Linked DNA regions of Homo sapiens. The protein of the gene in region 1 purifies or fractionates together with the protein of each later gene. This does not show direct contact. Each region holds a gene or a part of one and is shown in the gene's direction. Other genes may lie near its edges.

What was found.
Region 2: the proteins of ASAP3 (region 1) and RAB11FIP3 purify together in Homo sapiens (affinity purification with western blotting, with the first as the bait; one study listed by BioGRID). This does not show direct contact.

What each region holds. Positions count from the first base shown.
Region 1 is NC_000001.11:23,435,519-23,439,322, reverse strand, and holds part of ASAP3 (arf-GAP with SH3 domain, ANK repeat and PH domain-containing protein 3), read left to right. Parts: intron 1-92; coding exon 93-162; intron 163-488; coding exon 489-576; intron 577-1,850; coding exon 1,851-1,899; intron 1,900-2,002; coding exon 2,003-2,193; intron 2,194-2,278; coding exon 2,279-2,412; intron 2,413-2,668; coding exon 2,669-2,763; intron 2,764-3,294; coding exon 3,295-3,472; intron 3,473-3,804. UniProt on the Homo sapiens protein: Promotes cell proliferation.
Region 2 is NC_000016.10:519,494-523,660, forward strand, and holds the end of RAB11FIP3 (rab11 family-interacting protein 3), read left to right. Parts: intron 1-260; coding exon 261-398; intron 399-628; coding exon 629-784; intron 785-965; coding exon 966-1,106; intron 1,107-1,232; coding exon 1,233-1,346; 3' UTR 1,347-3,518; downstream 3,519-4,167. UniProt on the Homo sapiens protein: Downstream effector molecule for Rab11 GTPase which is involved in endocytic trafficking, cytokinesis and intracellular ciliogenesis by participating in membrane delivery. Recruited by Rab11 to endosomes where it links Rab11 to dynein motor complex.

The sequences.
Region 1 (3,804 bases):
ATCATACAGGTGGGGGCAAATTTCTGTTCTCTGACACCTGCGAACTAGGTGTGAGCCTTGGGTCACTGTCCTTCTATCCCTCTGGGCTTTAGAATTCGAAGAGTCTGGCAGAAAAGGAAGTGTGGAGTCAAGTATGGCTGCCTGACCATCTCACACAGCACGGTGAGGCCTAGAGGTGGTGGGAGTCTCAGGGCACGATGGACCCTCTTCTTCTGGTGTTCTGAGCAAATAATGTCAAGCCCTCCCTCTAAGACTGGCCCCCAAACCTAGGTCCAGGGAGCTGGAGACCCGTTTGGGAGGACAGATGGGACCTGAAGGCCCCAATCTAGTCTTAGTCTACACTTCACATCCTTGAGGTGCTGCTGGGTGAGGAGAAACACAAATGGAACAGGATGATTATGCCCATTTAACAGAGTGGGAAATGGAGGCCTAAAGAATGTGGAGGGCCAGAGGTAATGCATACATCCTCCGCCCCTAAATTCCCACAGATAAACCGGCCCCCGGTGAAGCTGACCCTGCTGACGTGCCAAGTGAGGCCAAACCCTGAGGAGAAAAAGTGCTTCGACCTGGTGACCCGTGAGTGGTCCCTGTGCCTCTCCCCCACCCACAGCTGCTCAGGGCTTCTCTAAGACACCTGTCAGCTCCCGGGGGGCTTCAGTGAGGGGTCTGTGTCCAGTTCCACACATGGTGTCGAATTGCTGCTACTGCAGACATAAGAATCCTTAGGTCTAGGATACCCACATCACATTAAATGTCAAAATGCACCCACTTTACATAATAAATGTGGCTATTTATACAGAGCATATTTGAGTGGATTTGGGTCATCTGGGTTTTGAAATTATTTCTTTTTTTAAAATTTTACCTTTTTTTCCCAAATACCCAGACTTGAAGGAGATGAAATTATTGTTTCTTTACATTTTCTACTTTTCGTTCTTCAGAGCCTTTGGTGCAGGCTTTGTGTGAGAGCAGACACAGGCTGAGAAAGACCTAGATCTTGTCCTCAGGAAACTCTCTGGCAGGGGTGTGGGGTGGGTACCCAGGACTGTAAGATGAGGGGGCTGTCCAGAAGATGGGTGCAGATATAGCCCCATAGAAGATTAGGGAGCAGGAAGGCCTGCACTGCTGTGGGGAATCAGGAAAGGCTCCTGGAGGAGACAGTATTTGAGTTTAGCCTTGAAGGACATGTAGAATGAAGAGTTTGTGGGGTGGGGGCTTTTGAGGAGACAGGATTAGCATGATGAAAGGCATGGAAGCAGGAGAGTGGGTCTGGCCGGTTTGGCCAGAGTGGAGGGTTCATGTAGCAGAGTGAGAGATGAGGCCTGGAAATCCCTCTTAAAAGTTTGGACCTTATTTCCTGGCAATAGAGAGCCATGGGAGATCTTGGGGCAGGGCAGTGGTGTAATTAGAGCAGAGCCTTGGGCACAACAGTTGGGAGCTGGTACAGGCTAGGGGAAAGGGGAAATGGGAAGCAGGGAGACCAGACAGGAGGCCTGGTCGCCCAGGAGGAGACCAGGAAGGGCCCAGTGGGGTGGTGACAGTTGGTTCAGAGGATGCCCTGCCTCAGAGCTGGGTTCTCTGGGGTTCCAAGCCCTTTGAGACCTCGTCTGAGCCTGGAACCAGGGCTTCACGCAGAGGGAGCTTTGTTGGGATCCTACTTCGGAGGCCAGTTCTGAGAAACTGCCCCTGGTGCTGGCCACTGTCATTCCACTCCCTTCCCACTCCTAGCTTGAGAGTCCGACTTGTCAGGGACACATCTCCATGTGGCCCCAGCGGCTTTGGTGGGGGCTCCCTGGGCTCCGGGAAGGCCAGCAGCATTTCTGTGGGTCAGAAGCCCCCTTCTCTCCCGACAGACAACCGGACGTACCACTTTCAGGCAGAGGACGAGCACGAGTGTGAGGCGTGAGTGCCCCCTCGGCCAGCCCGGCCAGCCTTGTGGGTGGGGGCCGGCGGCCCTATCTCTTCCCACTTGACATCCCCATCCCACCCCGTTCAATCTCCGCAGGTGGGTGTCAGTGTTGCAGAACAGCAAGGACGAAGCCCTGAGCAGCGCCTTCCTCGGGGAGCCCAGCGCTGGCCCGGGGTCCTGGGGGTCCGCCGGCCATGATGGGGAGCCGCACGACCTCACAAAGCTGCTCATCGCGGAGGTGAAGAGCAGGCCTGGGAATAGCCAGTGCTGCGACTGCGGGGCTGCAGGTCGGTCCCCGGGGCCGGGGCAGGAGGGAGGCTTAAGTGGAGGGGAGGGGCTGCACCTCCAGGCTCCAGCTGCTTTCCTCTGCAGACCCCACGTGGCTCAGCACCAACCTGGGCGTGCTCACCTGCATCCAGTGCTCGGGCGTCCACCGCGAACTGGGCGTGCGCTTTTCGCGCATGCAGTCACTCACCTTGGACCTGCTGGGCCCCTCCGAGTTGTTGGTGAGGGCGGGGCGGGGCCTGGAAGGGGCCAGAAGCGGAGTTAGGGGTGTAGTTTCATCCGGGGGCGGGGCTTGCAGGTTGTGGGTGGGACCTGGCCGAGGTGGGCTGGGACAAGCCAGGTAGCGGGTGGTCAGGGGCGGGGCCTGAACCGGGAGGGCGGCCGAGGGGCGGGACTCTGGGGGCTTGGAGCTCCACCCTATGCAGGCTTAACCGCCCGGTCTTACTCCGCCCCACGTCTATTTTCCTACGACTCCAGCTGGCCTTGAACATGGGAAACACGAGCTTCAATGAGGTCATGGAGGCCCAGCTACCCTCACACGGCGGCCCTAAACCCTCAGCTGAGAGTGACATGTAAGGGGATTCTCAGAGAGAGGGGCACCCTGCCTAGGGGATTCTGCCTCCGCAGTGTCCAGGGTCGTAGAAAAGTCTTGGATCAGAAGTCTGGGGAGGCTGGGCGCAGTGGCTCACGCCTGTAATCCCAGCACTTTGGGAGGCCAAGGCGGGCGGATCACTTGAGGTCAGGAATTTGAGACCAGCCCGGCTAAGATGGCAAAACCCCGCCTGTACTCAAAATACAAGAATTAGCTGGGCGTGGTGGCACACGCCTGTAATTCCAGCTACTCAGGAGGTTGAGGCACTAGAATTGCTTGAACCCTGGAAGCAGAGGTTGTAGTGAAACGAGATTGCGCCACTGCACTCCCTCCTGGGCAATAGAGTGAGACTGTCTAAAAAAAAAGCCTGGGGAGAGGGGAGCCTCAGATCTAGACGTCTTCAGGACATGGTTCTGGAGAAAAAGAGAGCTGTATCTCCTGTGGGAGGGCCCCAGGGATCAGCTGGGCAGACACGGTCCATGCTCTGAGATCCTGTGGTTGTTTTTGGTAGGGGCACCCGCAGGGACTACATTATGGCCAAGTATGTGGAGCATAGGTTTGCACGCCGGTGCACACCTGAGCCTCAGCGACTCTGGACAGCCATTTGCAACAGGGACCTCCTGTCGGTACTGGAGGCCTTTGCCAATGGGCAGGACTTTGGACAGCCGCTGCCAGGGCCTGATGCACAGGTGAGAACCCCTCCAAGGGCCACTTATAACCCACCTGTCTAACATATTCCCCAGTTCTTCTCCAGGACCAGCTGTTACTCCCCTCCACCCCACCTCTGACATCTGCTCAGATCTCACCCATCAGAGTGGTAAGTGGGAAAGAGCACAGCTTCAGTCAGGCAGACCTGGGTGGGAATCCTGGCTCTGTTTTTTCCTAGCTGTGTGATCTAGGGCAGGTTACTTCTCTGAGTCTCATTTCCTCATCTATAAAAGGGGTTAATAATAGCACCCACGGTGATGAAGTGAGAAGTCATGTATATAAAGGGCTTAGTGTACAATGGGCATGCAATAAA
Region 2 (4,167 bases), on another chromosome or scaffold:
CCTGTCCACACAAAGGTCCTTCCTGCCCCTCGTGAGAAACGGCCCTCGTGGCCTGCGTGTGCGCCTCTACCCAGAAGCAGGTGGCCTTGACCTCCACTGAGAGGCAGGAAGGCTCAGACCCAGCCCTGTCGCGCTCCAAGCACGGGCGCCACCGCGTTGCTGTTGGGAGACTCAGAGATTGGAGGGACAGACGGCCGGGGCAAGCTGCATGCACAGGTAGGTGCGTGACCCGCATCCAGGGCAGGTGTCCACCCCTGCAGGAGAAGCAGAAGCTGTTGGATGAGATAGAGTCGCTGACGCTGCGGCTCAGTGAAGAGCAGGAGAACAAGAGGAGAATGGGGGACAGGCTGAGTCACGAGAGGCACCAGTTCCAGAGGGACAAGGAGGCCACCCAGGAGGTGAGCACCCACCCTGCCCCACGCCCAGTCCTGCGCCCAGCCTGCCCCACGGGGAGCCTTTGTTTCCTGAGACGCTAGCTCTTGGCTGTGCTGCTTTGGGCATAGCCGCTGGTGTGTGTCGTCCTCCCGAGAGACGGCCAGATCAACCCTGAGGTTCTACAGCCAAGTGATGGCTGACGGTGGCCCCTGGGAGCCCAGGCCCCCCGGCTCACTGCACGGTTGCCCTGCAGCTGATCGAGGACCTCCGAAAGCAGCTGGAGCACCTGCAGCTCCTCAAGCTGGAGGCCGAGCAGCGGCGGGGCCGCAGCAGCAGCATGGGCCTGCAGGAGTACCACAGCCGCGCCCGGGAGAGCGAGCTGGAGCAGGAGGTCCGCAGGCTGAAGCAGGTGGGCAGGCCTGGGCCTCCCTCCCTCACACTCCTGCAGAAGCTTCCACAAGACTGGTTGGGAAGGGGGGGCCGTGGAGGGTCAGCATCTGAGCTGGAGGCCTTTTTCCCCGGGCAGTCCTTGTCCCTGCTCAGCCACCAGCAGGGGCCACAGCCCAGTAGTGATGTTGCTGTGCCTTCAGGACAACCGCAACCTGAAGGAGCAGAACGAGGAGCTGAACGGGCAGATCATTACCCTCAGCATCCAGGGCGCCAAGAGCCTCTTCTCCACAGCCTTCTCTGAGTCCCTGGCTGCAGAGATCAGCTCCGTCTCCCGAGATGAGGTAACACATCCCGTGTCTGCACGGTGTGGCCTGGGGTCCACAGTCTGCACTGTCTGTGCGCTGTGGTTTATGCGCTGTGGCCTGTGGCCCATGCGCCTCAGCTCTGACCACCTGCTTGCCCTACAGCTCATGGAGGCGATTCAGAAGCAGGAGGAGATCAACTTCCGCCTGCAGGACTACATCGACAGGATCATCGTGGCCATCATGGAGACCAACCCGTCCATCCTGGAGGTCAAGTAGAGGCAGGAAGGTCCAGCCTGAGCTGGATTCGGGACTCCAACACCCTGGAGTGGTTCCGTCAGACCATGAGGAGCCAAGACCAGCAGGTCCCACAGCCGACAGTGCCCAGAGCATGCAGGGAACCCTCGTGCAGCTGAGCTGGGGCCGCCAAAGACCGGGGCTGCCAAAGGGGCAGAGGGTGGTGGAGAGGAGAGGGAGAAAGGGAAGTCCCAGGGCCCGGGGTCCACAGAGGATGAGGGTTGTGGCAGGGCCGTCCATCAGCGCTGACCTTCCGGGGGCCCAGAGCTTCCCAGCCCTGAGTCAAGCTGGCCATGAACGCGTACACTTCAGTTCAGCAGGATGGGCTGGAGAGCCTCTCTGTGCAGCGGTGTGGGGTGAGCCCTGCTGTGGCCTCCTTGTGGTGGTCCCTCTTCCCACGTGCAGCCCTGTTGGGAAGAAAGGAAGAAAACAGGTCCCTCCAGGGGTGCTGCTGCCTAAGCCACCCACATAAGTACGCTGGTGCCGTGTCACCCATGTTGAGCCGCTCCTGATGGCTGACGGGCTCCCAGACCCTCACCTCGGACATGGTGGTGGGGGAAGGACGGGTGGGCAAGGCTGGTGCGTTCCCCAGCTCTCCCTACGCTGCTCGGGCCATTGCCCAGCCAGATGTGGTCACCTCAGTCCAGCTCTGGGGCCTCCAGGCCATGTGGCTGTTCCCACGGCCCAGTCCTCGCTGCAGTAACCCCTGGGGGCTCTGACCACCTATGGGGGCCGGGCAGGAGCCTCTGGGGCCTCCACTCCGACATCAGGACCTGAGATGACCGCTGTGTGGCGCTCTCTCCCTGGGCAGGGTGGATGCCACAGGCCCCTCTGGCTCCCAGGTGCTGCTTCTCCACAGGTGCGGCCTGGCCCGGCCTCCTAAAGGCCACACCCTCCCCACGCACTTCCCAGGCCAGAATCCAAACATCGGGAACCCTGTTTTCTTCTGGGTGTGTCTCACTTAGAAATCGTGGTTCTTCCCCGAGGGTGCATGTTGCAGGAGGGAGAGGGCAGGGAAGACTCACAGCAGAGCAGGAGGGGGCCTGTGCTTCTCGGGGTCTGCACCCCAGGCACAGCGGTGTCACCCCGCAGGACCGCGGGCCTGCCCCAACCCCCAGCATTCCCGGGTGGGCCCAGACCCCATCACCAAGACTGGCCACCCGCTGCGTGTGTGTGCGCGCGCGTGTACGTGTGGCCCCACATCCGCCGCCTTCCACGCTAGGATGTAAGAGGTCGCCTCCTATTGTACATTTGGGGAAAGCCTTGGGTGTAAATCAGTGTAAACTTGGAGGAGAGATTTTTCTATCATGTAGAGTAGGTATTTTTTATAGATTGAAGGTTGATCAATTTTTTAATACTTTCAAGAGAAAACTGTGTATACACATGAAATATATATATATATATATATATATATATGTATAATATATAAAGACTGGCACCCTGCCTCTCTGTGCCCAGGCCCAGCCCTGGTGACATGGCACCACTCAGCAGTGCTGTCACTGTAAGCATGGACTCCCAGGAGACAGTGTGGGAAACGCTCCTGCTTTAATTCCCCGAGAAACGGCTCTTCCTGCCTGGATGCAGGAGGGCAGGGGCCACCACAGATTAAAGCTGTTACTGCACACGCAGAGGCCGGCTTCTTCCTCCAGGGGGGCCACAGGGTGGGGTGGGAGTCTTCTGGGCCTGGCCCAGCTTCCCTCAAGGCGTCCGAGGCCATCAGTTGTCTGAGCTCAGAACCCAGCAGACCTGCCTGGCTCTGCAGCTTGGTCAGACTAAGACCCTTCCAAGGCCGTAGGATTGCACCTCCAGGCCCAGTGGAGCCTGGCAGCTTTCCAGCCAGGTTCTGGATCCTGACGAGCTGCTGAGACAGCATCAAGGTGGGGCAGGTGGGGCGGGGCAAATTGGGCAGCACAGGGCTGTGTGGGCATCAGGGCTCTGGGTCACACGCCTCTGGGGACGTACGTCCCATGTCGGGAGAGCCGTCAAAACGTCCCCGGGATTAAGAGAAGAGTGGGGGGCAGGGCGCAGAGGCTCACGCCATAATCTCAGCACTTTGGGAGGCCAAGGCAGGAGGATCGCTTGAACCCGGGAGTTCAAGACCAGCCTGGGCAACATAGCAAGGCCCCATCTCTAAAAAATAAAAAATTAACCAGGCATTGTGGTGCGCACCTATAGTCCCAGTTCCTTGGGAGGCTGAGGTGGGAGAATTGCTTGAGTCCAGGAGACGGAGGTTACAGTGAGCTGTGATCACACCGCTGCACTCCAGCCTGGGCGACAGCGAGACCCCATTTCAGAAAGAATTTAAAAGGGCAGTGATGTGCAGGGTGGTGGGAGGACATCCCCCAGAAGAGGGGGCAGACACAGTACCAGCACCACAGGCACGGGAAGGTGAGGAGGCAGGTCCCGACGGAAGTGGGCTCCCGAGGTCATGGGCAGCCAGGGAGTCTGAGAGAGCTCAGTGCCACTGCAGCCACAAAGAATGGCCTGCGGGGAGTGGTCCCATCTGATCAAGAGTCCCCCAAAAACACAAGCCTTGAAAACTGGACCACCTGGTCCAGCATCCAGGAAGCGGACTGTGCATCTGCGGCTCTCGCTCTCCCGCCCCCCGCGCGAGATGCCCGCCTGCCTGTCACTCTCAGATGCAGATGGAGATGGAGAAACCAAGGCCCAGGGAAGCTGAGGACCCAGGTCTGCCAGTCCCCTCAGCCCAGCTGCTGCTTGCGGGCTGGTGACCAGAAGAGGACCAGGCGTGGCCTACAGTGAGGAGTCCTTGAACCCTCAGTGCAGGTGCAGCAGAATGGTT